Linked DNA regions of Homo sapiens. The protein of the gene in region 1 purifies or fractionates together with the protein of each later gene. This does not show direct contact. Each region holds a gene or a part of one and is shown in the gene's direction. Other genes may lie near its edges.

The links.
Region 2: the proteins of BAHD1 (region 1) and MIER1 purify together in Homo sapiens (co-immunoprecipitation; one large-scale study listed by IntAct). This does not show direct contact.

The regions. Positions count from the first base shown.
Region 1 is NC_000015.10:40,443,911-40,447,732, forward strand, and holds part of BAHD1 (bromo adjacent homology domain-containing 1 protein), read left to right. Parts: exon of another isoform or gene 1-1,491; coding exon of another isoform or gene 1,492-1,633; intron 1,634-3,822.
Region 2 is NC_000001.11:66,973,490-66,977,311, forward strand, and holds part of MIER1 (mesoderm induction early response protein 1), read left to right. Parts: exon of another isoform or gene 1-2,029; intron 2,030-3,105; coding exon 3,106-3,233; intron 3,234-3,822. UniProt on the Homo sapiens protein: Transcriptional repressor regulating the expression of a number of genes including SP1 target genes. Probably functions through recruitment of HDAC1 a histone deacetylase involved in chromatin silencing.

The DNA.
Region 1 (3,822 bases):
CACTGCTGCCGCTCCCCTTCCTTTACTCCCACTTGAATCCCACTTGTCCTTAGTCTGGTTGTTGCTCAGACCACTCCAGGCCAACATAGTCATCCCCGCCTGAGCTCATGACTCTGGATTTTCTAACGTGGTATCCTCTTGAGTGGTTTTGTAGGTTGGAAATTTCTTAAGGACAGGAACAATATGAGTGTTAAACCTCTGTGTGTGTGTGTGTGTGTGTGAATATTCTGGTATTTCTTGTACAGTGCTGTGCACATCATTTTTGTTGAGTGAATAAATGTGGTTGGTTGCTGAGTTAGGCAGGAACAAGGGGGAGACCTTCCTTTCAGCTTCTCCAGAAATGCTCATATTGGAGTCCTTGGAGATTTCCAGCCCTTTCTGTCAAAGGCATATGGATAGGGCATGTTTGGGGTGCTGTAAATGGGAAATTTAACTGCTGTTTCTAATATTTCTGCTGGTGAAGAGTCCTATGGATTGCTTATGTGATACCATATAGACATTGGAAAAGGGCTGTAATCCTGTTTTCCTCCTACCTCACCGGACCACCATTCTTTCTACCCAGCTTTGCTGCTCTTATGCAGTTTTCCTTGTTGTTCATGCTAAATGAATCCATGTTTTATCTCTTCTCAAACCGGGTGCAAATGAGGGAGAAAACACAATTCTGAGCACAGAAAAGAAAAATACTCCTGGGTCTGGCCCATAGATGGGACTTTTGGGGCTGGTTTGGAAGAGGTGTTTATGGGGGCATCACCAACATAAGAGGCACAATCAGCCCCACATTGGACCCCTCATAAAGGAAAGCTACAATCCCTGCTCTCTCAGGCTTCTGTTTTGGTTCACCATCAACCCTGGACCATGGGGGAAACGGGAAAGAGGACTGGTGACTGGTTAGAGGCCAGATAGTGAAAAAATATATTCTGCATCCATCCCCTTTCCCCCAAACCTCCCTTTTGTGCCCCAGTTTGATGATTAATGGACCAGCATTTCCCTTCTACGCGGGAAGGCCACCCCTCACAGTTGCCATGGCAATGCAGACCGCTCCCCCGTCAATTAAAAAAAAAATCCCTACTACTTCTCTCCTCCTTCTACTGTAGCAGGAGAAAAGCTACCTCAGAATGCATCTCCTGGGCTCTCTTCTCAGCTCCTTTAGCTGTGTTTGCTGTGTGTCCTAGAACACAGTCCTTCCTCTCTTTCTGGGGATTGCCTGAGTTTCTTCACTCTGAGCAAATTGTGCCCCTTCTGGAGCCAGCAGCCCCTGGAACACTTATATCAAGAAACAGAGAAAATTTCTGTTTATTTATTCATCCCCGGTGCAAATTAAAAACTAGAGAGAGCTCCTTTTGGGTAAAAAAAAAAAAAAAAAAAACAACCCTTTCACACCTTCTCTGGTTAGAGGTATAAGTTGGGGCACATTTGACATCCAGAAAGGAAGTTTTAGTAAACCTGGAAGGAATTCAGCCTCCTAGCATACATACTTCAAATTGGAGTTCTATGGGGAATTCTCAAAATTATTTTCATTCCTCCTCACCTCTCTGTTCCAGCATCCAGGAGGACTTGTGTGTTTTCATTTTATCTGTTCTTATTCCTCTTGGCCTTGCTCCGGCAACATCTGGCCTCAGCACCCTGTCGCAAGGTGAGTCATTAAGGAGAATAAAAACCTTAAGGAAAAAAAGTCTCTGGAGTTGAGAAGTAGCCTGTGTTGAACTAAGGCTGCCAGGCGAAGCTGCCGAGTTTATGGAGCATTATACGAACAGCCCCGACATTAAAGGGCCTCCTTTTTATGAATGGGTTGTGAAGAATGTAAATAAAGCAGCATCTCTCAATGGGGAAGCATTTTACATAAGCAGTACTACCCCGACCCAAGTATTTATGGGAATTTGCTAGCACAGTCTGGCAAGGCTCACTTCCTTTGTGAACTTGCCATTGTGCTGGGGACTTTGGAGGGACAAGGAGAGTGTGCTTCGGTTCTGAGGGCAGCCCCAGCACTCCCACTCTGCAGGTTTCCTGGCGTTGACTTGATGGGCCAGCTCATGGCTGGAAATGCCTGTTAACCCTGAAGTGACAGAAAATACCATGCGCAGTCAAGAGCTCATGATAATTAGAGATAGAGGCTCCTGATCCTGGGGTCTGGAGATGGTGTAGCTCCTGACCCCTCAGGCTGCTTAGACCTCCACAGGACAGAGGACAGGGAGTTCTTGGATGATGAAATCTTGCCCGGTTTTATGGGAGGCACCTAAGTGGTGTAAAATGGGCTGGTTTGAATTTCAGCTCCTTTATGTTCCCCTGCCCACCTCCTGGTACTGCCACTAATGATCAGTAAAATGGCTAAAAAGGAGGAGGAGAAAGAGCACCAGCAGCAGTGAGGCTGCACGTGGTCTGCTCAGGGCCAGACGGCCTGACAAGCACCCTCACTGAACACCGGCCCAGCCCTGGGGTTCCAACAGGGGTGTTGGTGTCCTGCCCCAGGTGACTTGGTAAGCAGGCCCTGGAGTACAGTCACATCCAGGACTTTGTGTTGTGTCCCTGTGGGTGGGAGTGGGGTCATCAGATTTCATTTTTCCCAGTGGGAAACACCTGCAAGGATGGTTATTCACTTGACTCAGTGTCCCCCCAACACAAAAAAATAACATTGTCTTTTAAGATCCTCTGCAGGCCCAATCCACCAGGAGAAAAAAAGGGGTTTGTCTCTCAGCCTCGCTGATTTGAATTGGGAACTTATTTCTAAGCACTATGACCAAGTTAGCTGAATGAAAAAAAACAGGTGATTTCTTAGTCTTGTTACCAATGTCAGGCAGGAACTTGGGTCTCAATATTTTTTCTTGCATGTGTTCCTTTTCCAGTGGGTTTGGGGAAAAGAGGTGCTTTGACCTCCTGTCTTTGGGTAAGGAGGATGGGACCTGTCTTTCTGCCGTTCTCTTGACCCCAGGGATCTCACCTGGAGTGCTGTTGATGGCTCCTACTTTTATTCCATCTCCAATGCCTTTTGGGGACTCCTAGCCTCCATCAGTGCAGCTTTTTCAGCTTCCTGCGTGCAGTGGAGAGGGGCAGCCCACACAGACCCTTTTCCAACTCTGGTTACCTGTCCACAATGTTTAGGAATAATTGTTAATCACATTCTCATGTGGCCAGGTGGTTTAAAGGTGAATTACTGTTTTTTAGAGGACCTATGTAGAAATCGTGGGAAAGGTATTATTAGGGTGCCGCTTGATGCCAGGAGATCCTAACAAGTATGCCAGAAGGAGGGGTGAAGTCACGTTTCCACCATAGTCAGGGCCAGCAGGGCCTTCCTCAGTAGTGAGGGGTGTCTCCTGCTTTGTGCCTGGAGGGGTTTCCACATTGGCTAGAATGTAAAAAAGAATTATAAAAATGATTGAGGCCAGGTGCCGTGGCTCACACCTTTAATCCCAGCACTTTGGGAGGCTGAGGCGGGTGGATCACTTGAGGTCAGGAGTTCAAGACCACCCTGGCCAACATGCTGAAACCCCGTCTCTACTAAAAATACAAAAATGAGCCGGGTCTGGTAGCATACACCTGTAATTCCAGCTACTCAGGAGGCTGAGACAGGAGAATTGTTTGAACCCAGGAGACAGAGGTTGCAGATCGCGCCAGTGCACTCCAGTCTGGGCGACAGAGCAAGACTCTGTCTCCAGAATAAATAAATAAATAAATAAATAAATAAATAAATAAATAAATAAATAAATAAAAATAAAAATGATTGAATAACTGAGAGATGATTTCCAGAGAAATTGAAAGGACTTGAATTTATTTGGCCCAGAGGGAGGTAGACAAGGGGCAGTTAATATGTCTTTGCATGTTAAGATG
Region 2 (3,822 bases), on another chromosome or scaffold:
CTTTATATTCTTATAGTTATAATTTGAGGATTTTATTTAACATAATCATTTATCATTTCATGTTGATAATATCAGTCATGTAATTTATACTCCAAATAGCTTTATAATTACTTACAGATTTGTTTTGGGGCTTAATTCTTATAACTGAAATTAGGTATGATTTTTAATAGTAACCATATAATTATATAGAATAGAAAAATGTGTTGTTTCCATGAGCAACACATTAGGACAACAGATTAGGACAGGCAGAATTAAAGTCTTGGAGATTAAATGTAGGAAATTAATTCCCAGGCTTATGATTATCACATTATTTTTAGTTAGTAGAAATGACAAGGGTATTGGTTTATGTAATTCCTTAAAGATAGCTTCTAAGTTTTGTGTCGTAGCTTGTCCAGGACCTTGTTGAAAGTACCTGGGCTTATGTCTGAGGCTCTGAATAGTCTTCTGCCACAGCTCTCTTTTTATACATTTGGATGTGATTGGATTGTATCCAGTTGATTTTTTTGACACATATTTAATATTTTTTGTTATTAATAAAATATTTACAAATCCTGTGGGTTCATTTCTTAAATTTTGTCGTGCATTAACTAGTTTATTCTTATTTTTATTATTTTTTTTTTAAGTGGGAACTGGGCAGTGAAGAGCCCCACTCCCAATTAGTTCATTCTTAATTATTTTGTTGAATGTTGGCAGTTTACCGCAGATAACACTAATAGAGAAATGTTTAGTTTTAGCATTTAGGATAACTTAGAAGACAATGTAATTAGTTTCAAAAATGTATACCCCTAATGTTGTGTTCATATCATCTGATAACCTCAAATATAGTTAACATTCAAGAAAAGGAGTGCATTATGTGACTGGCCGTGTATGTTTTTGATTAAAAAAGAAAAAAGTTCGTTGTTTCATGGTTGAAAGGGACAACATTTTTGGATGAGGTTTTTTTTTTGTTGTTGTTGTTGTTGTTTTTTAACACTTCTGCTTGAATTAAAACACTCTTAACCAAACCATGCTGAATTACCTAAGGAAGGGACCCCTGGAATGATAGCTTATGTAACAAGCAGCAGCAACAACCCTGACCAATATGATTTTTTTAAAGGAGTTAAGAAATTATAGGTGACTTGAAACTTAGAGCCAAGTAACATAAGTATTAAAAGTATAACCTTGATTTCTCATAAATATTTGGGACAGTGGCATTTAAATGTTACAAGGTAGAAGTCAGCTGACCTCTACATAATACACTAAATTACTCTAGTGCACAAAAAGAGGACAGTAATTCTTTAAAAGGGAGACGAGTACTCTAGTGAGAATATCGAGTTTGTTTTTATGTCTGGAATTAAAGTTCAGATCTTAATCATAAGTTCTATTTTGAGGGCTTTTGTTGAAGATTTTTCATAATCTTAACTTTGCATGCCCCAAAATGACTTTATCTTTTTGCTTTCAGTAAAGTACAGTTGACTTAGTTCGAATCTATCTAGAAATAAGATCCTAGAGGAGACAAAAAACAGCTTGAGAGGATGATTTTTTTTAAAGTCCTGATTGCTGTCAGTCTCAGAGCAATATGGATCAGAGCTGTACAGTGCAAACGGGAAGAAAGCAAAATATATGTTGGGTAAGGGAGGGTATCATCAACATTTGTCCTTTAGGTGCAATCAGTGCTACAGAATATTTACTTCAAGAGCAGAAATTTATGGGATAAAGAAGTATATTGCATCCAGAACACATACAGACACTGGATTTCCTTTTAAATGGTCAGTATTGCCGGTGCAGTGGCTCATGCCTGTTATCTCAGTACTTTGGGAGGTTGAAGCATGCAGATTGCTTGAGCCTGGGAGTTCAAGAACAGCCTAGGCAACATGGCAAAACCCCATCTCTACAAAAAATAGAAAAATTACCTGAGTTTGGTGGCATGCAATTGTGGTCCCAGTTATTGAGGGTGCTGAGGCAGGAGGATTGCTTGAGCCTGGGAGGGCAAGGCTGCAGTTAGCGGTTTGGTGCCACTGTACTCCAGCCTGGGCAACAGAGCATGACACTATCTCAAAAAAAAAAGAAAAAGAAAGGAAAAAAGTTATCAGTATTTTATTTATATACATCAGCCCTAAATCCTCAGTATTTTATATATATACATCAACCCTACCACCAGTTCTCCCGGCTAAGTAACAAAAAGGAATTCTGTCAGCATCATTTAATTCCGTAGGCATTTAACATTATGTGAGGGGAGCCATTCAGTTGCACAAATAGGTACAGCACAGTAAGCCGCAAGAGTAACTTAGTAAACAAAGCATTAGCATTATTATGATACTTTTAACTCACTGTGGCATCTTCCCAGACTTTCTAGAGAGTAAATTAACTGAGTCTGGGTTGCTGTTGGGACTAGTAAGAGAATCTTTCAAAAGGGAATTTAAAGATACGCTCCCTAGGTACCCGTACTCTGTGAGTAAAAGTATTAGCAAACTGTTTATAACATTTATTTTAACATGAATGCCACTTCCAGGCCTTTTTTTTGTGTGTGTGTGTGTGAGACTGAGTCTCATTCTGTCACCCAGGTGGGAGTGCAGTGGTGTGATCTCAGCTTAATGCAGCCTCTGCCCCCACCCCCACCCCCTGCTGGGGTTCAAGTGATTCTCCTGCCTCAGCCTCCCGAGTAGCTGGGATTACAGGCACCTGCCACCATGCCCGGCTAATTTTTGTATTTTTAGTAGAGATGGGGTTTCACCATCTTGGCCAGGCTGGTCTTGAACTCCTGACCTCGTGATCCACCCCCCTTGGCCTCCCAAAGTGCTGGGATTACAGGCGTGAGCCACCGTGCCCGGCCAACTTCCAAGCATTTTTAATACAGGAATATATTTTTCTAGTAAATTAGGATGATGGTAGCATTTTAAAAAGCACAGTGCTGTATATCTGAAGACCTGTTGCCAATATATTATTTCTCTTAATAGATGTTTAGAAAGAATAGCTTTCAACATAGCTGCTACACTGTTGTATGTTATATATAGGATTATATTTCAGTTAAGGACTAGCCAAATTTATTTTCAAACTTCAGATGTTTATCATGAAGTAACTTTGTTAAAAAGGAGATTCTTAAAAGCAAGCATTTGTTTCTTACAGGTCCGAACAAGGTCAGTTGGTGAATGTGTAGCATTCTATTACATGTGGAAAAAATCTGAACGTTATGATTTCTTTGCTCAGCAAACACGATTTGGAAAGAAGAAATATAATCTTCATCCTGGTGTAACGTGAGTTAATTTTTTCCTTAAGAGCTATATATACATTTTTGCTAAGCTTTTCTAGATTTTTCTTGAGTTAATTATTATTTTGATAATCTTGCTTTTATATACTTGATCTTAACCAGAAGGCCGAGAGTGATAAAATCTTGCTTTTATAATACACATTAAACTTTACCATCTATTATATCTTCATAAATAAGGCATTTAGACTTTTCAGTGTCTTATGAAATATTGTAAACTACAGTTCATATTATGTATGAGACAAGCATATCATTAAAGCAAGATTTAGAATGTATATTTTTAATACACTGTTGAGAAGAAATGGATCAGAACAGCTGTGAAAGCATGTTTTTCTTAAATTCAGTTCCATTCAGTATAAGCACATACAGTTTTAATCTTCTTTTTTTTTTTTTGAGATGTAGTCTCAAATCTGTTGCCCAGGCTGGAATGCAGTGGTGCAATCTCAGCTCCCTGCAGCCTCCGTCTCCCGGCTTCAAGCGATTGTCCTGCCTCAGCCTCCCGAGTAGCTGGGATTACAGGTGCCTGCCATGACGCCTGGCTAATTTTTGAATTTTTATTAGAGACGGGGTTTCACTGT